Homo sapiens: one gene and its partners. The protein of the gene in region 2 interacts with the protein of the main gene of each other region in a pairwise test. Each region holds a gene or a part of one and is shown on either strand. Other genes may lie near its edges. The genes, in order: ANKRD13A, QDPR and PAH.

Evidence for each region.
Region 1: the proteins of QDPR (region 2) and ANKRD13A interact in a two-hybrid assay, tested with the Homo sapiens proteins (2 studies listed by BioGRID).
Region 3: the proteins of QDPR (region 2) and PAH interact in a two-hybrid assay, tested with the Homo sapiens proteins (one study listed by BioGRID).

What each region holds. Positions count from the first base shown.
Region 1 is NC_000012.12:110,026,728-110,037,431, reverse strand, and holds part of ANKRD13A (ankyrin repeat domain-containing protein 13A), read right to left. Parts: intron 9,728-10,704; coding exon 9,666-9,727; intron 8,924-9,665; coding exon of another isoform or gene 8,921-8,923; coding exon 8,790-8,920; intron 7,955-8,789; coding exon 7,797-7,954; intron 6,788-7,796; coding exon 6,674-6,787; intron 4,986-6,673; exon of another isoform or gene 4,722-4,985; intron 3,636-4,721; coding exon 3,475-3,635; intron 1,172-3,474; coding exon 1,104-1,171; intron 74-1,103; coding exon 1-73. UniProt on the Homo sapiens protein: Ubiquitin-binding protein that specifically recognizes and binds 'Lys-63'-linked ubiquitin. Does not bind 'Lys-48'-linked ubiquitin.
Region 2 is NC_000004.12:17,493,396-17,502,090, forward strand, and holds part of QDPR (dihydropteridine reductase), read right to left. Parts: intron 8,465-8,695; coding exon 8,324-8,464; intron 1-8,323. UniProt on the Homo sapiens protein: Catalyzes the conversion of quinonoid dihydrobiopterin into tetrahydrobiopterin.
Region 3 is NC_000012.12:102,849,668-102,860,371, forward strand, and holds part of PAH (phenylalanine-4-hydroxylase), read right to left. Parts: intron 5,666-10,704; coding exon 5,469-5,665; intron 5,135-5,468; coding exon of another isoform or gene 5,118-5,134; exon of another isoform or gene 4,161-5,117; intron 3,284-4,160; coding exon 3,148-3,283; intron 2,090-3,147; coding exon 2,020-2,089; intron 1-2,019. UniProt on the Homo sapiens protein: Catalyzes the hydroxylation of L-phenylalanine to L-tyrosine.

The DNA of each region.
Region 1 (10,704 bases), on a different chromosome or scaffold from region 2:
AAAACGGCTTGTCTCGCTCAGGGCGCTGGGGCACAGGCCTTCTGTGCTGGTGAGGAGGCTCTCCTGGATGGCCCTGGGTTGGAAAACAGATAAAAAGGGAGAGTCACTACTATCATCATCATGGTGGCAGCAGTAACTACATTTCTTAACCGCTTACCAAGGGCACACTGTGCCAGGCATTTAATATGCATGATGCCAATTAATCCCACATAACTGGCGGTGTAGGTGTTGTATACGGGTGAGAAACCCCACAATCTTGCCCAAGACCACCCAACCAGTAAGTGATAGGGCTGGGAATTGAACTTGGATCTGTTTTAAAGCAAAACTCAGGTTCTTCATCAACAGGCTCTCATAGACACCTTAAGTATAAGTCTTCGTAAAATGAATCCTCGCGGTTTTTCCCGTAATCTCTGGAGCTGTTCCTCCAAACTTCCTTATCTTTACAATTATATAAACTTCCCACTGAGGACATCTAGGCCCTGTGATCATACATCATTCATAGAAGATCAAACCAATCAGAAAAAACTGACTCAGTACGTTTCCCCCAATGGCACTGACCTGTGAACCAGTCAGCAATTCTATCACCCATTCCTGGAAACTTGCTATCAAGAGTCTAGAGTTATTATAAGTAACTGCCACAAGAGGAAGCAAGAGAGCCAACACTTTAGTCTTTTTTTTTTTTGAGACGGAGTCTCGCTCTATCGCCCAGGCTGGAGTGCAGTGGCGCGATCTCGGCTCACTGCAAGCTCCGCCTCCTGGGTTTGCCATTCTCCTGCCTCAGCCTCCCGAGTAGCTGAGACTACAGGTGCCTGGCACCATGCCCGGCTAATTTTTTGTATTTTTTTTAGGAGAGACAGGGTTTCACCGTGTTAGCCAGGATGGTCTCAATCTTCTGACCTCGTGATCCGCCTGCCTCGGCCTCCCAAAATGCTGGGATTATAGGCGTGAGCCACCGCTCCTGGCCTACTTTTTCTAGTCTTTCCTGCCAGTTTGTGGCACCGTACATCTGCCTGAGGACCAAATGCACAGTGCCACGCGTCTGCTCGCCTGTGTCCAGGCCTGTGTTCACCCTGGTTTATTCCAGAGTCACGTCAGTCAATCACCTCTCATACTGGGCGTCATAGGTGTTTGTCTGGCTGATCCCTCCATTCGAAGCTGGTCCTGAAAGTTCCTGGCAAAGACAAATGTGATAGACATGAATACGTCTTAGGAGAAATTGGTGCCATTCTGGTAAGGAAACGATGGCAGCAAGAACCAAATTAAAAGTCTTTCCATGACCATTATCAATAGTGCTGTGTGAAAAGCTAACAGGGACTTGGGTTACCTCAAAAACAACACCTAAGTGGGAGGTAGTAACATGCCACAGCCTAACTCACAGCCACAACCTTCTCATCCTTTGTACAAAATCAGTCTCTTAAATACAGCTAACCCACGTGGAAGATATACACAACGAAAAGCAAAAACACAGCTGACCTTGGGCAAAGTTCAAGTGACCAAAGCAGGTTTTTGTTTTTTTAGAGACAGGGTCGCACTCTGTTGTCCAGGCTCAAGGGTAGTGATGTGATCGTAGCTCACTGCAGCCTTGACCCCAGGGCACAAGAAATCCTCCCACCTAAGCCTCCTGACTAGTTGGGAATACAGGTGCACACCACCATACTTGGCTTTTAAAATTTTTTGGTAGAGGCTAGGCATGGTGGCTCACACCTCTAATCCCAGCACTTTGGGAGGGCAAGGCTGGTGGATCACTTGAGGTCTGGAGTTTGGGATCAGCCTGGACAACATGGTAAAACCCCGTCTCTACTAAAAACACAAAAACTAGCTGGGTCTGGTGGTGCGCACCTGTAATCCCAGCTACTCGGGAGGGTGAGGCATGAGAATCACTTGAACCTGGGAGGCAGAGGCTGCAGTGAGCCAATATTGTGCCCCTGCACTGCAGCCTGAGCAAAAGAGTGAGACTCTGCCTCAAAAATTAAAAAAAAAAAAAAATTTGGTAGATATAGGATCTCACTATGTTGCCCAGGCTGGTCTCAGACTCCTGGGCTCAATCAGTCCTCCCATCTTGGCTTCCCAAAGTGCTGGGATTATAGGCATGAGCCACTGCACCCAGCCAGTAATTCTTCTAGGGCAAGATTAGAAGACACAATTCAATACTGGTAGTCTTTGACTTTGGCTACTTCCCTTGTTAAAACTTATGGTCAACAAGGTTTATGAAGCTACTTGGGAGCTGGCGGGGGGAGCTAAGCTCACTTACATAGGGAAAGGAAAAGCATACCAGGCTGATGGTGATGTGCAGGGGTCTTCTCCCAGGATGCCTCCCAAAGGGAACATGCTTGCTTTGGGGTCTGGCTCGGAAAACTGAATGGGTCTGGGAATGGGGCCATGGTGGTGGCAGGGGGAAGTGGAGGAGGTAGACTCACATTACACAAGCACTAAGACTCAGGAATAGAACCAGAAAGCTATAAGCTTGAACCAGTGAGGACGCTGGAGTGTGAGCACTGTTCTCAAAGCAGCAGCCCTGTGAGGGCAGGGGCTGCTTCCCAGAGAATTCCCAGCACCTGGCACAGAGCCTGGCACAAAGAAGGTACTCTGCAAATATCTGAATGAAGAATGGAAGAAAAAGCCAATTAACAAATAAATGGACTGCAGGAACCCAGGACACACCAGAGGGTGCTGGAGGCAGACCAGACCCTACCCTAGTAGAGCCAGGAGGCACAGAAGGAAGGAGATGGAAGGAGTTGATGTTAGGGGAGGAGGACCTCAAGCCTTGGACTGTCCCAGGTAGGTGAGGCATGGAGGGAGAACCAGATATGACAATAAAAGGCAACTGTTCTACTGGGCACAGTGGTGCATGACTTTAGTCCCAGCTACTTGGGAGGCTGAGGTGGGAGGATCTCTTGAACCCAGGAGTTTGAGGGTGCAATATGATCATGCCGGGGAACAGCCACTGCACTCCGACTTGGGCAACATAGAGTCACACACACACACACAAAGCCTACTGCTTACACAGGTCTGTCCTGTCCTTCATTTTCTGTTTCACTAGAGACCCAGAGAGAGTTTAGGGAGATGGTACCCTTTGTGGAGGAAGTGGGATTCAAATCCACTTCACTACCTTCATCCGAGACTACTGACACACAGGTAATCCTTCAGGAAAAATATGATACTGCTTCAGTGCTAGAAAATGATGAAGCACATCTCAAAAAGTACAGAATTACAAGCTATGTGCGTGAATATGAGGAAAAGGAAAGTCTGCCTGAAGACATCTTGTGAATGGTGCTGACTGGGATTATGTAGATGGTCTCTTACATAACAAGCTTTTGTAAGAAGACCAGATGCACAAAGTATAACCTATGCAAATACCATGAATGTGTCAAACTTGATATTTAGAATAAATCTTTCAGATTAGCCAAACACTGAGGCTAACCCAGAGGGTAAGACCTCCCACGCCCTGCCATTAGAGTATTCTGATAAACACACCTGGCTCCTGCTGGACTCCAGCAGACTTTGCTGGATGGCAAACTGCATTATCTCGTAATCTTCATCTTGCAAATGCACATTTCTGCCATTGTCTTGAACATAGTAAGATTCGGGAATTTCAAACACAGATTGATCAACCTCAAAGTTTGTGATGTGGGAAGCTGAAACAAAAGGCAACCGTCCAGTGTCTGAGTTCATTACATTTCCACTCCAACTTTTTGCAAAAATGTTGTACATTAGAAAAAAAAGAAAGGCTCAAAATTATAACAATCAAGGCTTACTATTATATGAGAGATTCTGAGGAAGCATGACAGAAAAAAGTGACAGAATACAGCTTTTTTCTTTTTCCTTGATTTTAGTGGAAACAACGAACACAGTCATAAAAAAATACACAAGACTATAAAATGAAAAGCGCAGATTTCTCCCCCTAAACATATACGCACAGTCACACCAATGTGTTTCTTCCTTTTGCAGGAAGATATATGGTAAATATATAAAAGTATATATAAAATATCTGAACACTTAAAAATGATAATAATTAAACAAATGCCTGTGTGCCCTTCACCTAGCCTAAGACACAGAACACTATCAATAACTGCCGGGCGCGGTGGCTCACGCCTGTAGTCCCAGCACTTTGGGAGGCTGAGGCAGGCAGATCACAAGGTCAGGAGATCGAGACCATCTTGGCTAACATGGTGAAACCCCGTCTCTACTAAAAATACAAAAAAAAAAAAAAATTAGCCGGGCGTGGTGGCGGGCACCTGTAGTCCCAGCTACTCGGGAGGCTGAGGCAGGAGAATGGCATGAACCCGGGAGGCGGAGCTTGCAGTGAGCCAAGATCGCACCACTGCACTCCAGCCTGGGTGACAGAGTAAGACTGTCTCAAAAAAAAAAAAAAAAAAGAAAAAGAAAAAAACACTATCAATACCATACTGCGGGCACATCCCTTGTTAACAATATTCCCTTCTTCCTCTCCAGAGGTAAATACATAATTCAGAATAGTTGTTTACACTGCCTAGCTCTTCTCTGGAGCTTGCCACATGTATATCATCCTAATAGTTTGTATTAGCCTGTTTGTGAACTCGACATAAATGGAATCATGCGGAATTTATTCTTCAAATTGGATTTTCTTCATTCAACATTATGCTTTTGAAATTCAACAGTTTTGACGCACATAGCTATAAATTTTTATTTTCAATACTATATGTTATTCTGTTGTATTAATAGAGCACAATAGCGCATTCTACCATCTCGGGACATTTGGGTCGTTTCCAGGTTTCTGCTGTTATGAATGGATGCTGCTGCCCAGTACTGGGGTCTCCAGATGCTCATGTGCATAACTTTCTTTAGGGTACACATCTAGGAATTGCTAGGTCATCCACATCTTCAGTTTATACAGTAATGCCGAATGTTTTATTCAAGGAACTATACCAATCTCCTCTTCCAGCCAAGAGTGCACGAGTGTTCCTTAGCTGCACAACCTCATGAACACATCTCACCCAACTTTGTTGCTACATGGGAATGTAAAGGTGTATATTATTGTCGAGTTCAATTGTTTTTATTTGAAGTCTTAATTTATATACATTAAAATGCTATCTTTTAATTCCTCCTACTGGTAGACTACAGGGGAGAAACATAGGACCATCATGATAGTTGCAGAAAACACATCTCACAAAAATCAATACTTAAAAATGGTAATAACTCTCAGCAAACTAGAAATATAAGAGAATAATGTCCTCCAACTAATAAGGGACATTTATAAAAAACCTACACAGCTAACATCATACCTAATGGCACAACAATCCTTCCTCCCCTAGAACCAGGAACAAGACAAGGACAGCCATTCCTACCACTCTTACTCAACATTGTACTAGATGTCCTAGCCAGTCCAGTAAGTCAAGAAAAAGAAATGAAAAGCTTAAAGATTAGAAAGGAAAAAGTAAAATTTTCTTTATTAATAGACAACATGACCATATATGTAAGAAATTCTAAGAAATCTACAAAAAAGTGTAAGACAAGTAAATTCAGCCATGTTACAAGATAAACAAGGTCAATCCTGGCCATGCAATTGTGTAAGAAAAAAAAAAGATAAAAAATTTTTAAAAACGATTCAAGGTCAAAATACAAAACTCAATTATATTTCTATATACTAGTAACTGGAAATGAAATTAAGAAAATAAGTCCATTTACAATTGCATCTAAAATCATGAATTGTATTGATGGCAAAGGAGTGTAAGGAAATTTGGGGGCATATGGAAATGCTGTCTACCTTGACTATGGTGGTGGTTACACAGATGCATACATTTGTCAAAATGTGGCTGGGTATGGTGGCTCACACTAGCACTTTGGGAGGCCGAGCTGGGTGGATCACTTGAGGTCAGGAGTTCCAGACCAGCCTAGCCAACATGGTGAAACCCAGTCTCTAATAAAAATACAAAAATCAGCCAGGCATGGTGGCACGCACCTGTATTCCCAGCTACTTGGGAGACTAGGCAAGAAAATCGCTTGAGCCTGGGAGGCAGAGGCTGCAGTGAGCAGAGATTGTGCCACTGCATGCCAGCCTAGGTGACAGAGTGAGACTCTGAGAAAAAAAAAAAAAATGCACTGAACCATCACACTTAAAATGAGAGCATTTTATTGTATGTACATTACACCTCAATAAAGCTGATTTTTAAGAACATCCTTTCTTTTTAATATAACTAGGATCATATATATTCTACAAGTTTTTTTTTGCTTAATCTAAACTAAATCTGAAATTTTCTTTCATCCAACACAGACATCTACTCCCTCAGATATTCCAGCTTCAGAGTGAATTATGAATATGATGACTGAATTATAATTTTTTTTTTTTGAGATGTAGTTTTGCTCTTGTTGCCCAGGCTGGAGTGCAATGGTACAATCTCGGCTCACAGCAACCTCCATCCCCCCGCCTCTCCCCCAGTTCAAGCGATTCTCCTGCCTCAGCCTCTCGAGTAGCTGGGATTACAGGCATGCGCCACCACACCCGGCTAATTTTTGTATTATTAGTAGAGACAGGGTTTCTCCATGTTGGTCAGGCTGGTCTCAAACTCCCGACCTCAGGTGATCCACCCACCTCGGCCTCCCAAAGTGCTGGGATTACAGGCATAAGCCACCACGTCCGGCCATAAATTTTTTTTTAAATAACAAAACTAAACTTTGTATTTATTTATTTTTTTACCTGAATCAGCCTGGGTCCCTTCCACATTTTGAGATACAGATTCTTCGGCAGTGCTACAGCCATTAACATTTCCAAATGTAATCCGTGCATTTAAGACATGAAACAAGGGAATTTCTAACAAACAAAATAAAAACTTTTATAAGTAAACTTTACTGAGAATAACAATAATAGTTATCATTTACTAAGTGCTTACTATGCCAAGTACTTTGATAAGTATAATTTTATTTAAGCCTCATAACAACCCTTCCCAATACACAGACGGGAAAACTGAGATTGAGAGTTGTGTATTTTCGGTCAGGCGCGGTGGCTTACACCTGTAATCCCAGCACTTTGGGAGGCCAAGGCGAGCTGATCACCTGAGGTCAGGAGTTCGAGACCAGCCTAACCAACATGATAAAACCCCATCTCTACTAAAAATACAAAAATTAGCTGGGCGTGGTGATGCATGCCTATAATCCCAGCTACTTAGGAGGCTGAGGCAGGAAAATCGCTTGAACCCAGGAGGCAGAGGTTGCAGTGAGCCAAGATCATGCCACTTCATTCCAGCCTGGGCAACAGAGCGAGACTCCATCTCAAAAAAAAAAAAGAGAAAATGAGTTATGTATTTTCTCCTAGATCACAGTGAGTAAGTGATCAAGCCAGGGTTCAAGTATCATGAACATACAACTATCCAAAATTAATACTCTTCATGAGTAGTATGTATGATATATACATATATAGCATTATGCATACTAGCTTGGGACGTAGATCATATTTACATATCAAAGGATCTTGGTGTCAACTGTCTTCCTCAAATAATTATCTAATTTGAAGTCTCACTGAATTAAGGTTTGACATTAAAACAATGACTGTGTCATGTTTTTATGCCTTTTTATATCTGTCAGCACCATTTGCAAATAGAAATGATGGTTGGAGATCTCTTGACTTTGATACACAAAATGAACCACTAATCATAACACTTCTTTAAATCAAACCACAGGAGAACTCTGACCTCCTCTGTTATGTCTATAAGCTACTTTGACCTAAAGCACTCCAATTCCCTGAAGCATCCTGCCACCCACATGCTGCCACCCACAAACATGGGCAGAACCTCCAAGTGTTGCTGAAGTTTATTTAGCAGTACCTATTTTGACAGGAAATCCAGGTGGGAATTCCAATTTGATGAAATCTCTCAGTCTTGCAAAATGAGCACTCGTTCGAGCCATTAGGTCAATGATGGGAATGACCTGCTCCACCAGAGAGAGGGGAAACTCTTCACACATCCACAACATTGCTTTAAACCTGCAGAATTCAACCAAGAAAAGACTGAGGTCATCTCCACCAGATGGGAAAAGGAGATTATTGCTATGCAGTAGGCTAGACAACAGCAGCTTTACTCCACACTCTGCCCAGTCATCTCTTAATTCAGACCTATTAAAGGTCAAATGTCTAGGGCCACAAGGAATTCACATCACCCTAAAATCTGGCAATAAAGGCAAGCGACCTGCATGACAACCTGCCACGATCAAAGCCTTAATTGACAGCAAGCATGAAGAAATGATAGCGGGTGGAACAGTTTCATTTGAATTTGATCAGCTGAAGCTGGTTAGCAATAAAAAAAAAAAGGAATTCTTACATCCAATCTAGATTCTATTTGGAAAGGAGCTAATAACATGGACAATCTACTGTTAGCTTTCATGGCAAAGTAATTTTAAAATTATTTTTTATAAAAAGGGGCAGAGGAGGCTGGGCGCAGTGGCTCATGCCTGTAATCCCAGCAGTTTGGGAGGCCCAGGCGGGCGGATCACAAGGTCAGGAGTTCGAGACCAGCCTGACCAATATGGTGAAACCCTATCTCTACTAAAAATACAAAAATTAGCTGGGCGTGGTGGCACGCGCCTGTAGTCCCAGCTACTCAGGAGGCTGAGGCAGGAGAACCGCTTGAACCTGGGAGGCAGAGGTTGCAGTGAGCCGAGTTCGTGCCACTGCACTCCAGCCTAGGCGACAGAGCGAGACTCCGTCTGAAAAAAAAATAAGGGTGGTGGGGAGGGCAGTGGAATGATCCAACATAACACCATAAAACAGCACAATTTCTGAAACATACATAGGTTGAAAATGGCAGCTGAACCTCTCTTACTTCTGTGTTCTAATCGTCAGCTCTTTCGGCCTTCCAATGTCCCTGTCTTTCAGATCAAACTCTTCATTGAAGTACTCATCAGGCGTGATGGCTGTGGGGTTGTTTGCAGTAGCACATTCCGTGGTGAGGTCCTGCTGAGCCAGAACTCAGGAGAGTCAGAAATGCCAAATGATGTTCACAAGTGAAGGCCTGTGGCACTCAGTGTCTGAGGTGGACGTGTTAACCAGCTAAAGACCGGGAAGTTCTATTCACTAACTTTTTTGCATGGAACAAGAAAATCTATGAGGATATCACCAAACTACACAGGAAGTGTAATGGATTTCTTCATTTTAAAATATTTCTCTACTCTCCTTTACATTTTTATCTCCTGATTATAACAAAGAAAAAAAGAAAGAAATATCTGAAAGTGCATGAGACTTGGAAGACTTGGAGTTGAAGTTCTAGCTGTTTCCCTGTCTAGCTTTGATAGTGGAAAGGTAATTTCATTTTTCTGACCCGCAGGGACATCCACTGTACCAAGTTCATATAGTTACTGTGAGCATCAAGTAAGAAAATATTTGTTAAGGTGCTCTGTTGCAATATAAAGTCCTGAATCCTTTTTAAGTTCCATTTCTATAAAGAGGCCCCTCGTTTATAATGGATAAGAGGGAAAGCACCTGATTTCTATAATCACTACCCCTCCTCTAAAATCCTTATTTATTTTCAAAGAGTCACTCATCTAATTCTCTTCCAAAAGAGTATCTCAAATTCCAGCTTGGGGGTATCTTTGGCCTTTACATAGAGTGGGCTGTTCAGGATCCAGTAAATGCCATCCCAGACACAGACAAGTTGTTTCCTTTCATCTAACTGCAATGAAAGCTCATTGCTTCAACTTACCCCTTGTGCACCAAATTGGTGTTCCACAGTTCCCAGCAAAGATTCCAGCGGGTTCCTGTCTGCTACAGAGGGGTAGGGAGTTTAAAGTCTAATATTATATCTCACTTGTGGCTATAAAAAAAAGATCTTCATTAAAGTTTCTGGTCCAAGCTACCTCATTAGGAAATGCAATTACAGACTGGCTGATCAAATCATTCACAATAACCATAAACTAATTTATCCTTTATAGGGTGCTTTTCATGAGGATCTCTAAACTAGATAAACAGTTGTAAGAATTAAAGCAGAATAATGGGAAGAGTCTGGATTTTGGAGTGAGCCAGACCTGGATTCCAACCCCACCTTGGCCACTCGCTACCCATGTGTTCTGGGCCTCAGTTCCCTCATCTGTCAAAGTGGAGTAATGGCAATGGTGGTGGTGGTGCTGGTGAACAATTACTGCATGCTTACCACATACTGCAGGCGCCATTCTAAAGGCTTCCACGTCGTAACTCATCTAATCCTCTCAATAACTCTAAGGAAGGTTGGGTATCACCTGCATTTCACTGCTGAGGAACTAAGGCACAGAGCAGAAGTAATTTCACAAGGCCATAGAACTGGTGGGGCTGGGATGGGGCTGGGATGTGGCAACCACATGCAATGTTTTTGCTTGGACCCCAAGTTCTGTCTAAATCTTTCATCACAATAGTTTGGACTAAATCACTCATTCCAATGATAAATATTCTCAAATGTCCTTATCTCCTTTTTTGGCTGAATTCAACAATTGTTCTTGATAACACATAAACAAGCCCTCACGAATAGCTTTAATTACAGCTGAGGCCAACTATGGGGAAACACCTCCAAGAATGAGTCAGACTAAGGAAATTTTCTTTCCTTTTTCTTTTTTTTGAGACAGAGTCTAGCTCTGTCACCCAGGCTGGAGTGCAGTGGGACAATCTTGGCTCACAGCAACCTCCACCTCTGGGGTTCAAGCGATTCTCCTGCCTCAGCCTCCCCAGTAGCTGAGACTACAGGAGTGCGCCACCACGCCTGGTTAATTTTT
Region 2 (8,695 bases):
CACTGTACTCCCGTCTGATTTAAGGGCTCAGTCTCACAAGACCTACCCTACTTCAGATGGCAGTCACAAGTCCTGGGCCACTTAGACTTCTGACCAACAAGCTTAATCAGGGGTTTGCACAACCCCCTCTTCAGGTGCAATAATTTGCTAGAATGGCTCGAAGAACTCAGGCAAACGCTTTTTTTATAGTTACTGGTTTATTATAAAGGATACAACTCAGGAACAGCCAGGTGGAATGACACAGAGGCAGGGTAGGAGAGGGGGTGGGCATGGAACTTCCACGCCTGCTCCAGCCACGCCACCCTCCCAGTGCCCTCCATGTGTTCAACCCAGATGCTTATCACATCTGTAAGTTTTTATAGAGCTTAATCTCCAGCCCCTGCTTCCTTCCAGGAGGTCGGTAGGTGGAGCTGAAAGTTCTAACCTCCTAATTGCTTGGTCATTCTAAGAAGTAGCTCCATCCTGAGGCTGTCTAGGGGCCCCAACCTACTAATCACCTTATCAGTATAAACTCAGGTGTGATCCAGAGGGGCTCATAACGACACACAGGAATAGAGTACTTAATTGTGAGCATACCCTTAGCACAGGACAGGCACTCAATGAAGGTTTCCCATCAAATCAATAGAAGTAATGTGCCCTGGAACCCGACTACCTGGCTTCGTGTCCAGGCTCTGCTGCTTGCTAGTGACTGACACTGGGAGAGGCTACTAAACCTTGGAATCCTCAGTTTCCCATTTCGTGAAATGGGAATGACAATCCCAAATCCTAAGGATAATACAACAATCAAATAAAATACCATGTACAAGTGTAGCAGACAGGGAGGGTCTCCAAGGACTATAGGAGTTTCATCAGCTTGAACAATCAGCCTGTTTCACAGGCTCCTGCCCTTCAGCCTGGTTTTTCCCACAACTTGCATGGAATGCAGTCACCAAGTCAGGTGAAACCAGCAACTTATAGAGATGATCCCAAGTGGACTTTCCTCATTACCATGCTACAGTCTCCACCCGGGAGGAGCTACAGCTTCATCACCAGAACATGTGACTATGTGCTGGCGTGATGACTCACTGCATCTGTGCCACTGGGACCCCTCCTCCACATGCAATGACACACCCTTTCCCCTCTCCATCACCCCATGAAACCCTCCTGGGAGAGACGCTGCTTTGGAGAATACTTCCAGCATCCTCCTTAATTATGTCAAGTAATAAAACTCCATTGATTGTTTTTTTTCCAGGTTAACAAATCCCCTTTGTACAGTACTGAGCACAGAGGAACACTCAATCCTGGCCATTATTGTCATTCATGACTCTCAGCAGGTCACTGGCAACTCTTTTTCCTCGGACAGCAATAAGGAATTGCAAAAAGGGTCATCAACTTGGAATTCAAAAAGTGCAGCCCTAACTCCTGTTTTTCCAGCCACCAAAAAAAATCACAGGTTCTGTGGGCCTGCTTTTCCATCTGTCAGTGGGAGTGGTAACTCAGATCACAATTTATTCACAAGGCTCTGCTGAGGATGGAAGGAGACTGCATCCAACAAGGGCCTTGGAAACCATGGAGGGCACGCACAGAACCCGATCAGGGCGGAGGGAGCCCAGCCTGGTGTAGGAGGGGCTTTGCTCAGCACCTTGCCAGGGAGATGTTCTCCCAGTGACTGCGGCAGGGAGGGGGTGATGCTTCTCCCACTCTCCCAGCTCATCATTATTCATATTATCATAGATGATTCCTCTCCAGATCAAGCAGTCATCTGCGGCCCATCCGGGGCATTTCCTTCCTTATCAGCAGTGGAAGGACTGTGGCATGACGGGGATGGTGACAACTCTGGCCTTAACACCATCAAACCAACCTGCCATCACTCTGCTGCCTGTAAAGCCAGAGCCTGGAAAGGGGCTGCCAGGGTCTGCCTGCTCCCGGGCATCAAAACCCACTTACCCCACCCCATGTCATGGAGCCTCTTCTATGTGGGAATCCCTAGGCTCAGTGTTAGAAAGACGAAGAAGCACAAGGCAGCTCCCTGGCTCCCAGGAACGGCACAGCACACCAGAAAGAACCCAGAATCTGGACTTCGAGGCCAGGGGTTGGAACCCAGGTGATTCCTCACCACTGTGACTTGGGCGAGCAGCTCTTTCAGCCTCTGGTTCTTCCCTGCTAAATGGGATCCAATGCTAAGCTAAATAGGCTTTCCTGAAAACGACATGAAACGTGACACATCTCATAAACTCGAAAGGGCTCTTTCATTCCCAGAAGAATGTAAGTTCCACAGAGGCAGGGATTTTTATTGTTTTGTTCACCAATGTATCCCAAACCAAAAGGTGGCAATCAATAAATACTTTATTTGGCCAGGTGAGGTAGTTCAGGCTTGTAATCCTAGCACTTTGGGAGGCTGCGGCAAGTGGATCTCTTGAGCCCAGGAGTTTGAAACCAGCCTGGGCAACATGGTGAAACCCTGTCTCCACAAAAAATACAGAAATTAGCCAGGTGTGATGGCGAGCGCCTGTAGTCTCAGCTACCCGGTAGGCTGAGGTGGAAAGACGGCTGGAGCCCCCGGGAGGTCGAGGCTGCAGTGAGCCAAGATCACGCCACTGCACTCCAGCCTGGGTGACAGAGCCAGACCATATCTCCAAAAAAAAGGAAAATAAATAAATAAATAAATAAATAAATACTTTATTCACTGCTTTCAGAAAAGAGCAATAGGTGGGTTTCTCAAAGGAGGATAATGGGGCTTAATCAAATGGTGGCCACTCAAAAACTGTGGGAATGAAAAAACAAACTGGGGCCAGGTGCGGTGGCTCACGCCTGTAATCCCAGCACTTTGGGAGGCCAAGGCAGGTGGATCACCTGAGGTCAGAAGTTCAAGACCAGCCTGACCAACGTGGGGAAACTCCGTCTCTACTAAAAATACAAAGTTAGCTGGGGGTGGTGATGCATGCCTGTAATCCCAGCTGCTCCAGAGGCTGAGGCAGCAGAATTGCTTGAACCAGGAGTCAGACGTTGCGGTGAGCCAAGATTGCGCCATTGCACTCCAGCCTGGGCAATAAGGGCAAAACTGTCTCAAAAAAAAAAAAAAAAAAAAAAAAAAAAAAGAACAAACTGGTAGCTCTGTTCATTAAAACTATGGTAGGTGATTCTCAGTAACTCGTGAGTTTCTCAATATTCCAGACAAACTAACTTTTAAATTATTTAATCTATGATGAAGTGAAAAGAATAAGGCATGGAAAAGCCTCTATCGAGTCATCAAATTATGGTGCTTTTCTTTTTTTTTTTTTGAGACAAGCTTACTCTGTTGCCCAGGCTAGAGTGCAATGGTGCAATCTCAGCTCACTGCATCCTTCACCTCCAGGGCTCAAGCAATCCTCCCACCTCAGCCTCTTTTTTTGTTTGTTTGGAGACAGAGTCTCACTCTGTCACCCAGACTGGAGTGCAGTGGCGCAATCTCGGCTCACTGCAACCACCGCCTCCCAGGTTCAAGCGATTCTCCTGCCTCAGCCTCCTGAGTAGCTGGGATTACAGGTGACTGCCACAACAGCTGGTTATTTTTGTATTTTTTAGTAGAGATGGGGTTTGACCATGTTGGCCAGGCTGGTCTCGAACTCAGGTGAACCACCCGCTGTGGCCTCCCAAAGTGCTGGGATTACAGGCATGAGCCATCGCGCCCTGCCAAATTATGGTGCTTTTTAAAAAGTATGTGAATGTGACATGGGCACACACTAGAATGGGCACAGAATGCTTCCCAAAGGACACCTGAGAAGCCATCACTGTAGTTGGGCCTGGGAGGGAGTGCCATAGAGATCAGCGGTGTGAGTAGGAGAGAGTCTTCCTATTCATTGTGTTTCTTTTAGTGCCATGTGAATTTTTACTACATGCATTGGTTAGTTTTCCAATTTAAAAACTGATTAAATTATTTAAATAAAAACTAATACAGTGCCTTGTCTTTTCCCATAAGCTCTATTTGTCAAAGCAAGTCCTTTTCCAAGACCCTGTTTGAATCAGCTCCCTCAACAAAACCTTTTCAGAGGTGGACTCACCCCCACCAAGAGCACTCCGCTTAGACCGTAATGTAGCCCGGTCTCACACTCACACCACCCGCACCCTTGCTGCCGGAGGAGGCTCTGAATATAATTATATTATCTCTATATAATTATATTATCAGTAATTGCTATAATTACTGATTATAATTATATATTAATTACTGATCAATGTATTACTCAGACCAATCTGCTACTAACTAGCTAGGTTGTCTTAGACAAGGCACCTAAAATCACTGAACTTTTTTTCCTCCATAATCAAGGGAAAATAATAGGACCTACTTTACAGATACCTCTGGTGATGAAATAAGATCAAGCTTAGCCCAACAAGCCAAGCACCCAGAAGACAGATGCCTAAAAATATTTCTTTCTTTTTCGCCAAGTCTGTTGAGGTATAACTGAAACACAATAAACTTAAACACATTTAGGGTGTACCATTTGAGCAAATTTTGACATTGTGTATACCTGCTACCTATTGGTCTTCCTTTCCTCCCACTATTCGATGGATATTTGCTGACAGAAGCAAGGGATGTCTTTTATTAAGGTAGGTTTCCCTCTGCCCCGCAGGCATGTGGCAGGAATGGAGTCTTTCCTCTTTATGTTCCCCCACTGTGCCCAACTGTAGCTGCTCACTAAATGCTGCTATCACAGAATAATGATAGCAAGAAGGAATGATGAGTCACTGTAAACTTCTCCACCTTCTGAAAACCACTATTTCTTCTAGAGGTCATCAGGCTCCCTAAAATCCTCGGCACACACACTGTTTAAGATGTAATTGCTGTGGAGGCATCGCAAGTCCAGCGGGAGGTGGGGGGATGACAGCCCAGCCAAGGGACCAATCACAAAACTGCTTCAACAACTACCTCAAATTGCAAAAGAGGGTCAAGGTCTCAAAGAGCTATTTGGAAGCACAAGAAGAATATTTCGCCATCCTTAGCTTCTCTGTTTAATCAGGGGGCATAACAAACTCTTCAGTGATTAAAATAAACCAGGGCATAAGTGCTCATTAACCCAGCCCTGGTCCTCAAAATCCCAGAGCTCTCTCTTGACTCCATTCGAACAACACAACACAAGAGCAGGGACTCTGACAAAGGAAAGAAACAAGCAAATAGCAACCGTAATGGCTTAATTCTAAAGAATGACCTTTCCTTGGGGACACAAAAGGGGTTATTTGCAAGATATGAAAAAAAAGACATTTCACTAAGAAGGTCAACACTTCCAAATTACTGAATGATCAGTGTGGTCCCCCAAAACTGATTTCCAATCACAGCACAGATCCTTTAATGGTAAACAAAAGTGAACACCATTTTAATACTGTTTGTCCTACAGAAGACAGTCTAGAAATACAAACTTGGAAATAGGAGGGTGAGGTTTTCTCAGTATCCTTCCAAGTGAAAAACTTCTGATGTGCAAACAAATCTTCTTGAGTTTGAGGGACTACTAAGCCTGATTCATCATTTACTTTCAAATTGTAGATCTATTTCCCCAGATTTTTCTGAGGTCTGCAGCATACTTAAAAGATCTCATGACTCAAATTATTAATAGCTTAACAAAATCTAACTTAAGAGGTTAAAGATGAACAAATTCATTAACATCTGAGGCAGAACAGCTGGGCAGAAATAAGCCTGGAGTAAATAATAATAATGGCTCACACTTACTATTGACTCTCTGTAATACCTTTCTCATCCATTTAGATCCATTGAGACATTTACAAGGTACAACCACCATATATATAAAGGAGACACTATTTTATCTTATTTTACAGATGACAAAACGCAGACTCAGAAAGGCGAAGTAACTTGCCGAACGTGTCACAGTAAGTGGCAGAGCCTTAAGAGAAGTCCAACGTGCACAGTTCCAGAGCCTGCAGTCTTAACCACTACCCAAAATGTAATCAAAGGATACCTGCAAACCAAAGGAAAGTAGGAGACTCTTCTGTCATTTAGAAAAATCAGTCTTTTGGTCCTAGGGTTTTGTTTTTTAAAATGTCAAGCTAAGACTCATTTCTCTGTTTACTTTCTACTGCCTCTGTTCCGTGTCATCTTAAATAAAAATCAGATCTCAACCAACCAGACAGCTAACATTTACACAGCTTTAATGATTGCTATAGCCATGGACTTGTAACATCACATGCTCTAAGAAATGGAAGAAGAAAATGAGAGGGAAGGTATTGCTAGTAGTCACAGCCTCACAGTTCAGTGAGTTACATTAAAATTGAGAAGGGGCCTGGCGTAGTGGCTCATGCCAGTAGTCTCAGTGCTCCGGGAGGCCAAGGCAGGAGCATCACCTGAAGCCAGGAATTTGAGACCAGCCTGGGCATCATAGCGAGACCCTGCTTCTACAAAAAATACAAAAATTAGCCAGGCATGGCAGTGTGTGTCTGCAGTCCCAGCTACTCAGGAGGCCGAGGCAAAGGATTGCTTGAGCCCAGGAGTTCCAAGCTACAGTGAGCTAGATCATACCACTACATTCCAGCCTGGGTGAGACCCTGTCTCTAAAAAAATAAACAACTGAGAAGGGTCCCAAGGTCTCTACCACTTACAAGAGAGTCAAAAAGAGCTCCCCCCACCTTTTTTTTTTTTCTTTTGAGAGGGAGTCTTGCTCTGTTGCCCAGGCTGGAGTGCAGTGGCGCGATCTCGGCTCACTGCAAGCTCCACCTCCTGGGTTCACGCCATTCTCCTGCTTCAGCCACCATCACGCCTGGCTAATTTTTTGTATTTTTAGTAGGGACAGGGTTTCATCGTGTTAGCCAGGGTGGTCTCAATCTCCACCTCATGATCCACCCGCCTTGGCCTCCCAAAGTTCTGGGATTACAGGTGTGAGCCACTGCACCCGGCCAAAAGCTCCCATTTTTTTAAAAGAAGAGTTCAACTTAGGTAGTTGAGGTAGACACTTTCTGCCTCCCTATGCTGCCCCTTTCTACCCCTGCTTAAATTCCTTTAGCCCTATCCCACAGGGAGTGTTATGGGCTGAAATAGATCCCCCCAACATTCGTATATTGAAGTCCTAATTCCCAGTACCTCAGAATGGGACTGTATTCGAAGATCTTTAAAGAGGCAACAAAGTTAAAATGAGCCCATTGAGATGGGCCCTAGTCCAATATGCCTGGTTTCCTTAGAAGAGGAGGAAACGAGGACAGACACACAGAGGGAAGACCACATGCAGACAAAAGGAGAAGGCAGCCATCTATAAAAAAAGAGGATTCAGAAGGAGCCAGCCCTGCAGATACCTTGATCTCCAGACTTTTAGCCTCCAGAGTTATGAGAAAATAAATCTCTGTTGTTTAGGCCACCCAGTCTGTGGCTACCCAAACAAACTAATACAGGTCATAAAAAATGCAAAAGAAATGACATAATGGAAAAAATACACAGTTGGTAGATGATTAGGGTTTTGGTTCAAGTAAGTCTGCAACTTACTTCCTGCACAAACCCAGACAAGTTACTTAACTCTCCAAGTTTTAGTTTCCTAACCTGTAAACTGAAAAAGATAATATTGATGAGATTAAAGTGAGAATATATGTGAAATGAAAAGAGTGACTATAAGACCTACCATTTATTGTGAATAACAGTAAGACTTGCCATTTATGGGTGCCTACCATGTGCACTTTCTACATAGCTACACCTCTACAGTTTTACAGTACTCTTCAAGTTAGATGTCACTGTCACTATTTTACAATTAAGGAAACTACAGTAGACATCTGGTCAGAGACTGAAGAACTGGTTCAGGGTCACACATCTAGGATAAAGAATCCACCCCCAACCCTCTCACTCTCTTTTTGTTTTCTAATGTAGAGATAGGGTCTCACTATGTTGCCCAGGCTGGTCTTGAACTCCTGGGCTCAAGCAATCCTCCTGCTTCAGCCTCCCAAAAGTGCTGGGATTACACGTGTGAGCCACTGTGCTGGCCAAATGAACCTCTCTCATTTTAAACTTATGCTATTTCCAGCTGCTAAGCTGCTTCCCTGGAACACATGGATTCAATGTGATAATAATAATCCATGTTTATTAATTAATTAATATCCACTAAACCATTCATTCCAGTGTAGATCACAGATAAATAAACTAAATGGGGGTTACCAGATCATAGCGTTCCTTACCACCACCATAAACATAAGGACAGGCAAACAAAAGATCAGAACTCTTCTCCCTAAAATGATTCAGGCCCAAAAGAAGACAAAATCCATCTATCTGTTAAGCAGCTTAGAGGGTAAAGGCTTTAACAGTCCTCATCCCATGAAAGTGCCCAGCAGCCCCAGCAAGCAAGGTAAGCAACCCCACTCCACAGATAGGGAAATAAAGGCTTACCAGGAGTCCCATCCAGGGCAGCCTTTGCGCCAGCCAAGGTCAGGAGGCCTCCTTCCTTGAGATGCTTGGTAGCCAGATGGCTGGAGATGGTCGATGTCCATATGCTCTGCTTCCACATCAGGTCACAGTTCTTAAAGAGAGCTGAGTGAAAAAAACATGTGGGCTCAGCATTCCCAGGAAAGAAACCAAAAGGTGAGCTCAACTCATGCAGCCCCACACTCAGGGAGGCCCTCCCTCCTGGTCCCCAGGTCCCTATCTACAGCAAGGTCTAACACAAACAGCACAGGGCTCAGTGGTCAGAGACACAGGTTCAAATCCAGGCCATGGGATTGCCTGAGGTTCAGCTTCCTTACCTATACACTGGCAAAATGT
Region 3 (10,704 bases), on a different chromosome or scaffold from region 2:
GCCTGGATCTGCTCTCTCAATTCAACTAGAAACCACTGATAAATCCAAGACCAAAATGGCGCCTTGTTCTCTTAGTCACCATTCTTTGTGAGCCTAGAGTTTGCCTACAACAAGGGGGGCCCCACATTCCCTGTGCTCCAGCCCCACTCCATCCTGTACTGTAGTGGGAAGCAAGTCCTGCCTCTGATCAAAAAGGAATGTTCTCAGGAAACTTTCAACATGACTTGCTGCCTTGGAACTGTCCAGATCAAAGTTGGAACCATGTGACACTGATGCCCCAAGAGCTCCTGTTTGTTGACTTGAGCAACTGTCCACTCTTCTGTGGGGTTCCCCAAAGTGGAAATGGCTTAAGGAGGACTGCCACTTAGCCTCTGACTTCGTAAACTAACTTCTGGTGGTAAGAATAAAAGGTTCCTATTCTTCAAGGAAAAATCTGATTGTTTTTTGGCCACAGTAACAAATCCAGATTTTAAAACTGTCCCAAGCAATCAAAGATATCTTGGCAGCAGTAACCACACTTCTGAATGTCATTGGTGATGCTTCTACAGTTAAAGTTCAACTAATCCCGAAACACTTCCACTTCCAAAAGTCCAACGATCTTTGAACTCCATAATTCCCCAAACCTCACATAAAAGTAATTTTCCTTTTGTTTAGAGAGGCTGCATCTTACAAGTACAGTTTTCCCTCACTTAGCAAGCAATAAATTCCACTTTTTTGTTTGTTTGTTTCAAATATTTAGTGGTAGCTTCTTTATTTGACAGTGGGAATGTTTATTTCTGCCAGCTGAGGGAAAATGCCCATTAAATTCACACACAATCCCATTATTCTGAAATCCCAATACTTGGCTCAGCATTTGCTCATAGGTCATTCCATTTGATTCTTGTGCTTCTTTGTGAGGAAGATGACTGGTGGAGAGGGCTTTTGACTGATCCACTTTTATTAAAACTGAGGCACAGGGTGGCTGATAATGTAACCCCAGGTCACACAGCTGGTTAGTGGCAGGGTTGGAGCCTAGGTACATCAGAACACCATTCAACCTTCTCATGATCCCAGCTACCAAACCATGGTTTTAGGCTGCCTCTCAGTGCCTGGAGAGAATTGGTAGCATTATTTTACTCAGCCCAAAACTTTCTTTTTTGGCCAGGTGTGGTGGCTCTTGCCTGTAATCTTAGCACTTTGGGAGGGTGAGATGGGAGGATTGAGGCCAAGAGTTTGAGGTCAGCCTCAGCAATGTAGTGAGACTCTGTCTCCACAAAAATTAAAACATTCAGCCAGGCATGAAAGTATGTGCTTGTAGTCCCAGCCACTCAGGAGGCTGAGGTGGGAGGATTGTTTGAGCCCAGAAGTCTGAGGCTGCAGTGAACCGTGATTATACCACTGCACTCCAGTCCAGCCTGGGTGACAGAGTGAGACCTTGCCTTAAAAGAAAAAAAAAAGAAAGAAAAAGAAAAAGAAAGCTTTTTTTTGAGCTTGTTAACCACTGTGAAAGATGAATGAAATTCTAGGTTGCAGGGTTGCAGCTTTGATGATGGTGATAAGATATTCAGCTCATTTTTTTCTTTGTTAACTCTAAGTCAGGGTATCAGCATTGGATTCTTGGCAAATGTCACCTCACTTAATTCAAGCATATACACAAATAACTGCCTGACAAGGTAGAAAGTTGCAACAGCCCTGAAAAGGTAAGGGGAATGTACTAAGAGATTGGAAGAAGGTGAGGTAGTTCCTGCATGGGAATCAGGGAGGCTTTCATGGATGAAAGGCTCTAGCAGGAAAAATGAGATTAGTACACTGAAGAACACACATATGATTCAGAGGATGAGTGATTCACCAACCCCATGCTTGATCTCCGAAATGGGTATTTAGCTTCCCAGAACCACACACCCATTTCAGGTGGGATCATAGAACTGTACCTGGTTTCCGCTCTTGCAGAGGGCATGAGGACCCCTCCCTGGGCTCAACTCATTTGAGAAATTCAGGTCACAGACCTATAACTAGAAGGCTAAAAAATCCATTCCTTACCTGGGAAAACTGGGCAAAGCTGCGATCTGAAAACAAGGGCACATGTCCCAACAGCTCATGGCAGATGTCACTGAAAGACAGAAAGCACAGAGAGCTCGGAGGGGAGGAGGTTTAAGCCAAGCCAGACTCAGTCTTTCTACATGAGGAATGGGCAGAAAGAATGGAAATAACTCTTTTAGGCTTATGATCCCTCTCCCAGGAATAAGTGATATGCAGAGGTTGGGATCATAAAAGGCAGGGTACAAGGTAAAAAGAAGAAAAGGAAGGAAAAATAAGAGACAGGTGCAGGGTAGGGCACAGCAGCCAAGGGTCTTAAGAGTATCCCCAGTGGGGTACCAGGCAGAAGAGCTAATATTCCTGTGGACATGCTCCCATATACCTAAGTGAGCTATGAGTCATGAACACTTCTCATCCTGTCTTCTCCCTGGTATTGACTTCCCTGGGCAGATACAATATGCTCAGCTATTCCACTGGGAACTAAAACAAAAACAGTGCTGCTCTTCTGTTAGTCTGGAGGTGGACAGCAGTGAGGGAAGAAAACCTACATTTATTTAACACTGTATGTGCTATGTCCATTTGGAACAGGTCTTTTTGGATTTGTAGCAATGAACTTTATGGGCAAGGAAAAACAATTTTGGATGTTCCATTAATTTTTTTATAAGTTGCATAAGTTTTATCAGACTAAGGGGATAACGAAACACCCAAGTAAGAAGCATAATGGCTGCAATTCTCTACCTCTACCCAATACACAATCTAGGCAAAGAAAGATAAGAGTAATCTAGATGTATACTTAGGAAGTATTGAGATAGCTTGGCTGCCACTTGTTCCTGTTCTCATTTGCAACTTCGTAGCTTTGACTTTGGAACTTGATTGGGATCTCTCATTCTCACTGCCAAGGGAGTTCTGAGTTATTGGATCACAGGATGACCAAATCTCCAATCAGTCTGGTCTATCTACTTGGATGGAGCAAATCTCCAGAATAGATGAATTGTTTTTAGTACTACCAGCAAACAGTCTAGACAACTAGTCCTGTGGACCAGCCAGCAATGAACCCAAACCTCATTCTTGCAGCAGGAAAAGATGGCGCTCATTGTGCCTGGCAACTGGTAGCTGGAGGACAGTACTCACGGTTCGGGGGTATACATGGGCTTGGATCCATGTCTGATGTACTGTGTGCAGTGGAAGACTCGGAAGGCCAGGCCACCCAAGAAATCCCGAGAGGAAAGCAGGCCAGCCACAGGTCGGAGGCGGAAACCAGTGCAAGCTGGGATGAAAAGAAGAAAGAAAACTCAAAGCTCATCACCACTGAGTCAGAGGCACTAGGAGACCTTTAGGTAGTGGAGTAGTACACATAACTGCCCAGGGACATAGGCTTTGACGCTAGGCAGACTTGGCTTCAGATGTCTGCCTCGCTGCTTTCTAGCTAGGTGATCTGGATCAAGTAAATTCCCATTTCTGAGCCTCAGTTTCCTCATCTGCATAATGTGGATAGATACTTCTTAGAAATGTTCCAAGAATAAAAAGAGCTAATGAATACAAAGTACTTAGCACAGAGCCTAGCACATTGGAAACATGCAATAAATTTAGCTTTCATTACCATTTGTTAGGGTGGAACAATGATTCCCTACTTCTCCTGCTTCTAGAGTGAAGAGGGAATTTGAACCTCATTTCCCAGAAGGGAAGAGTATGGATAGAGTGCTTCCAGCTTCTGTACTGCACCTCACACAGTCTACCCCATAAGTAGCAGTGACCTGTCTGACTGGAGCATTTGGGAAGAGAATATGAATATTGTCAATTTAACTCTTTCTGTACTGCTCTTTCTCTCTTGATTGTTCACAGAGGACCTCATTCCAGTCTGCTCTTGGCCATGCAATGGACTATGCTCTATGAATTGGCAGGTAAGTTTACCTAATTAAGGGGTAAAATATTAGCAAGTCCATTTGTGTGCATATCTATATCACATTCTCTAAATCGCTCAATTTTAAAGCTGACCTCTGATCACCATCTCTATGGTTCCTGTATCTGTCTCTCAGTTTGTTGCAAACTTTGGAGGATAAGGATAGTGACAGTGATAATGGTAATAATAGCTAACACTATATTTGACCTACTGTATGTAAGACACTGTTTTAAGCTACTTTAGATATGCTACTAATCCCCACAATAGCCCTATGAAGTAGACACTTTTATTATGCCCACTTTACCGATGGGAAAGCTGAGACAGAGATAGGTTAAAGGTTTTATTCAAGGTCACAGCCACAGGCAGTCTAGCTTCAAAGTCTGTTCTCTTAATTACTATTATGTAGCTTCCCAACTGCTAGTATTACTGTTTTATTATTCTTATTATTGGCCATGGCAATGGAAGTAATTAGCTAAAGAAGTCTTTGAGATCCCCTTGCCTCTTGCCCCCATGTTCTCTGTGTCTTCAGGCTGAAGCACACTCTGCTTGGACCCTTACTCCCTTCTTTATCTAAGAAGCAAAGACTTTCTAATGGAAGGGACCCAAAAGGTCATCTAACTCACCCCCAAACTGTCCTGGCTACAACTTCCCTTCCTGCCAAGTAATTTCCCTGGCTCATTGCCCCCACAGTGGCCCATCTCTGCACAGCTCTGATATATAGAAAATTTTGTAACCTGTAGTCTGTCTCCCCACTTCTGCTTATTCTACCTGGCACACAGTAGGTGTTCAATATGTGCTAGTTCATTATTTTGTTTTTGCTAAATTAACATCCTCTTGACAGAAAGAGTAACACCCATTTCACCTGGATATACTGTACAGAGAGGCTTGCGACTCAATGTACTTACCTATTAAGCTACTCAGATTTCAATTCAGTCCAAATTCACTGAATACCTGCTGTATATGCAAGACTGTGCTGGTTGTTTCCATATGCAGCACCTTACTTCATTCTCATAATTTCCCTATGGGAAAAGCTAAAGAGTTGATACAGTGTCCATTTGACAGATGACAAAACTGAGGCAGGTTTACTCAGCTGGAGAGGATTGAAGGCAGGATTCATACCAGATGCACAGACTCAGAGCTCAGGGCTCTTGGCACCATCCCCGAAAATAGCACATTTCTTACACAAACACACACTCCTAACTCATAACACAGCAGGAACTACAGGGCAAACAAAACAAAACAAAACAAAAAAAAACCTCAGTGAAGCACCTTGGGCTTTAAGTGTGAAAGAAAATACTTTTCAGGGACAGGTACACGGCAAAATCCACAGCCTCAGGTGTTTGATTGAATGAAAGTGGATAAACACAGTAGGGGCTGGAGGGAAGGCAGAGCACAGTGAAATTTAGTTCTTCCTGGAGGAATCAACCTGCATGCATTCCTACAAGCACATGCTTTCATACTTGCCTCCACATACTTGTCTTCCCCTTCCCTCTCCTCTGCCTCAATCCTCCCCCAACTTTCTGCAGGGCCATTGACCCTGATGTGGACTTACTCTGCAGGAACTGAGAAACGTCTTCCAGCTGGGGAATGTTATCTTCATGGAAGCCACAGTACTTTTCAAGAAGTGGAAAAATGTGATTGTACTCATAGCAAGCATGGGTTTTATACAAGGACTTCAGAGTCTTGAACACTGTGCCCCATGTTTTCTTTTCTTCCTCCATGTATTCCACTCGAGGGATGGGCTGCCCACTAGAATACAGGCACAAAATAGGTGTCTCAAGCAGGGCAGGGGCACAGCAGAACGCAGGTTAGGTTAGCAGAGGGAGTCGGGGACCAGAACCTGTGAGCTGCCATCACTTGCTACAGTGAATTTCATACATTATTTGAAAGAGAAAAATTCCACATCTTGATATAGGAAACATTGTTGTTTTGATTTCCCACATGAAAGGGTGATTTGGTTAAGCAGTGATACAGGCTACAATGAGGATTTGCTCTCACTTTCGGGAAATCACTTGGTTTTTCTACTCTTCTAATTCTCTAATTGCTTACCTGGGGTAGAAATTCACTTACCTGCACGGGCCAGTCAGGTATCACAAAGCTGTAAAGTTGCAGAGATTGGCAATAAGGAGAATGGGGGCTGGCAGGAGAATATATTCCCTTTCTAAACCAGGGCATCTAAGTTAAAGCAACACAGTGTATTTTTATGGTGTTAGCTAAAGCAATTAAACCAGTGGGCTAAACTGGATTTAATATGTAGGCCACGAATCTGAGATCCCCTTTGTTTGGTAGGCATGCACTTATTGGGTTTGATATTTCTGCTCCTGGGAAGTTATAAAGGTATTTAAATACATACTAATTAAGATTCCACATTGTATACATATATCAAAACATCATGTTGTACACCATATTTTATATACAATTATATAATTATATACAATTATATAATTGTATATAATTAAAAATTATATACAATTTTTATTTGTCAATTAGAAAACTAAATAAATAAGTTCTAGATCAAGGATAATAAATAAATATTGGAACAAAGGAGAGAAAATAAATATATAAATCCATGCTAAGGTATAAAATGCCTCATACCTTCTCTTCACTGAGCTTGTTCAAGTACATATGCCAGGCCGCATAGATCCTGAATCTCTTGGGGAAGGGAAGGCTCACATATCTGGATTCTAGTAAGCTCCCCAGGTGACTCTGATGCAAACTATAGTTTAAAAGTCGTTAGTTTTAAAAGTCCGGGAAGCTCAAACTGGGTGGAGCCCACCACAGCTCAAGGAGGCCTGCCTGCCTCTGTAGACTCCACCTCTGGGGGCAGTGCATAGCCAAACAAAAGGCAGCAGAAACCTCTGCAGACTTAAATGTCCCTGTCTGACAGCTTTGAAGAGAGTAGTGGTTCTCCCAGCATGGAGTTTGAGATCTGAGAACGTACAGACTGCCTTCTCAAGTGAGTCCCTGACCCCCGAGTAGCCTAACTGGGAGGCACCCCCCAGCAGGGGCAGACTGACACCGCACACGGCCGGGTACCCCTCTGAGACAAAGCTTCCAGAGGAATGATCAGGCAGCAACATTTGGTGTTCAGAAATATTTGCTGTTCTGCAGCCTCCGCTGCTGACACCCAGGCAAACAGGGTCTGGAGTGGACCTCCAGCCAACTCCAACAGATCTGCAGCTGAGGGTCCTGACTGTTAGAAGGAAAACTAACAAACAAAAAGGACATCCACACCAAAACCCCATCTGTGTGTCACCATCATCAAAGACCAAAGGTAGATAAAACCACAAAGATGGGGAAAAAACAGAGCAGAAAAGCTGAAAATTCTAAAAATCAGAGCACCTCTCCCCGTCCAAAGGAACACAGCTCCTCGCCAGCAATGGAACAAAGCTGGACAGAGAATGACTTTGATGAGAGAAGAAGGCTTCAGACGATAAAACTTCTCTGAGCTAAAGGAGGAAGTTCGAACCCATTGCAAAGAAGCTAAAAACCTTGAAAAAAGATTAGATGAATGGCTAACTAGAATAAACAATGTAGAGAAGTCCTTAAATGACCTGATGGAGCTGAAAACCATGGCACGAGAACTACGTGACAAATGCACAAGCTTCAGTAGCTGATTCAACCAACTGGAAGAAAGGGTATCAGTGATTGAAGATCAAATGAATGAAATGAAGTGAGAAGTTTAGAGAAAAAAGAGTAAAAAGAAATGAACAAAGCCTCCAAGAAATATGGTACTATGTGAAAAGACCAAATCTACATCTGATCGGTGTACCTGAAAGTGACGGGGAGAATGGAACCAAGTTGGAAAACACTCTGAAGGATACTATCCAGGAGAACTTCCCCAACCTAGCAAGGCAGGCCAACATTCAAATTCAGGAAATACAGAGAATGCCACAAAGATACTCCTCGAGAAGAGCAACTCCAAGACACATAATTGTCAGATTCGCCAAAGTTGAAATGAAGGAAAAAAATGTTAAGGGCAGCCAGAGAGAAAGGTCAGGTTACCCACAAAGGGAAGCCCATCAGACTAACAGCTGATCTCTCGGCAGAAACTCTACCAGCCAGAAGAGAGTGGGGGCCAATATTCAACATTCTTAAAGAAAAGGAATTTCAACTCAGAATTTCATATCCAGACAAACTAAGCTTCATAAGTGAAGGAGAAATAAAATCCTTTACAGACAAGCAAATGCTGAGAGATTTTGTCACCACCATGCCTGCCCTACAAGAGCTCCTGAAGGAAGCACTAAACATGGAAAGGAACAACTGGTACCAGCCACTGCAAAAACATGCCAAATTGTAAAGACCATTGATTCCGGGAAGAAACTGCATCAACTAACGAGCAAAATAACCAGCTAACATCATAATGACAGGATCAAATTCACACATAACAATATTAACCTTAAATGTAAATGGGGCTAAATGCTCCAATTAAAAGACACAGACTGGCAAATTGGATAAAGAGTCAAGACGTATCAGTGTGCTGTATTCAGGAGACCCATCTCACGTGCAGAGACACACATAGGCCCAAAATAAAGGGATGGAGGAAGATCTATCAAGCAAATGGAAAATGAAAAAAGGCAGGGGTTGCAATCCTAGTCTCTGATAAAACAGACTTTAAACCAACAATGATAAAAAGAGACAAAGAAGGTCACTACACAATGGTAAAGGGATCAATTCAACAAGAAGAGCTAACTATCCTAAATGTATATGCACCCAATACAGGAGCACCCAGATTCATAAAGCAAGTCGTTAGAGACCTACAAAGAGACTTAGACTCCCACACAATAGTAATGAGAGCGTTTAACACCCCACTGTCAACATTAGACAGATCAACAAGAAAGAAAGTTAACAAGGATGTCCAGGAATTGAACTCAGCTCTGCACCAAGCGGACCTAACAGACATCTACAGAACTCTCCACTCCAAATCAACAGAATATACATTCTTCTCACCACATTGCACTCATTCCAAAATTGACCACATAGTTGGAAGTAAAGCACTCCTCAGCAAATGTGAAAGAACAGAAAATATAACAAACTGTCTCTCAGACCACAGTGCAATCAAACTAGAGCTCAGGATTAAGAAACTCACTCAAAACCACTCAACTACATGGAAACTGAAGAACCTGCTCCTGAATGACTCCTGGGTACATAACGAAATGAAGGCAGAGATAAAGACGTTCTTTGAAACCAATGAGAACAAAGACACAACATACCAGAATCTCTGGGACACATTTAAGGCAGTGTGTAGAGGGAAATTTATAGCACTAAATGCCCACAAGAGAAAGCAGGAAAGATTTAAAACTGATACACTAACATCACAATGGAAAGAACTAGAGAAGCAAGAACAAACACATTCAAAAGCCAGCAGAAGGCAAGAAATAACTGAGATCAGAGCAGAACTGAAGGAGATAGAGACACAAAAAAACCTTCAAAAAATCAATGAATCCAGGAGCTGGTTTTTTTGAAAAGATCGACAAAATTGATAGACTGCTAGCAAGACTAATAAAGAAGAAAAGAGAGAAAAATTAAATAGACACAATAAAAAATGATAAAGGGGATATCACCACCGATCCCACAGAAATACAAACTACCATCAAGAATACTATAAACACCTCTATGCAAATAAACTAGAAAATCTAGAAGAAATAGATAAATTCCTGGACACATACACCCTCCCAAGACTAAACCAGGAAGAAGTTGAATCCCTGAATAGACCAATAACAGGCTCTGAAATTGAGGCAATAATTAATAGCCTACCCACCAAAAAAAGTACAGGACCAGATGGATTCATAGCCGAATTCTACCAGAGGTACAAGGAGGAGCTGGTACCATTCCTTCTGAAACTATTCCAATCAATAGAAAAAGAGGGAATCCTCCCTAACTCATTTTATGAGGCCAGCATCATCCTGATACCAAAGCCTGGCAGAGACACAACAAAAAAGAGAATTTCAGACCAATATCCCTGATGAACATCAATGCAAAAATCCTCAATAAAATACTGGCAAACCGAATCCAGCAGCACATCAAAAAGCTTATCCACCACGATCAAGTGGGCTTCATCCCTGGGATGCAAGGCTGGTTCAACATACACAAATCAATAAATGTAATCCAGCATATAAACAGAACCAAAGACAAAAACCACATGATTATCTCAATAGATGCAGAGAAGGCCTTTGACAAAATTCAACAGCCTTTCATGCTAAAAACTCTCAATAAATTAGGTATTGATGGGATGTATCTCAAAATAATAAGAGCTATTTATGACAAACCCACAGCCAATATCATACTGAATGGGCAAAAGCTGGAAGCATTCCCTTCCCTTTGAAACCTGGCACAAGACAGGGATGCCCTCTCTCACTACTCCTATTCAACATAGTGTTGGAAGTTCTGGTCAGGGCAATCGGGCAGCAGAAAGAAATAAACGGTATTCAATTAGGAAAAGAGGAAATCAAATTGTCCCTGTTTGCAGATGACATGATTGTATATTTAGAAAACCCCATTGTCTCAGCCCAAAATCTCCTTAAGCTGATAATCAACTTCAGCAAAGTCTCAGGATACAAAATCAATGTGCAAAAATCACAAGCATTCTTATACACCAATAACAGACAAACAGAGAGCCAAATCATGAGGGAACTCCCATTCACAATTGCTTCAAAGAGAATAAAATACCTAGGAATCCAACTTACAAGGGATGTGAAGGACCTCTTCAAGGAGAACTTGTAGTTGAACCACTGTTCAAAGAAATAAAAGAGAACACAGACAAATGGAAGAACATTCCATGCTCATGG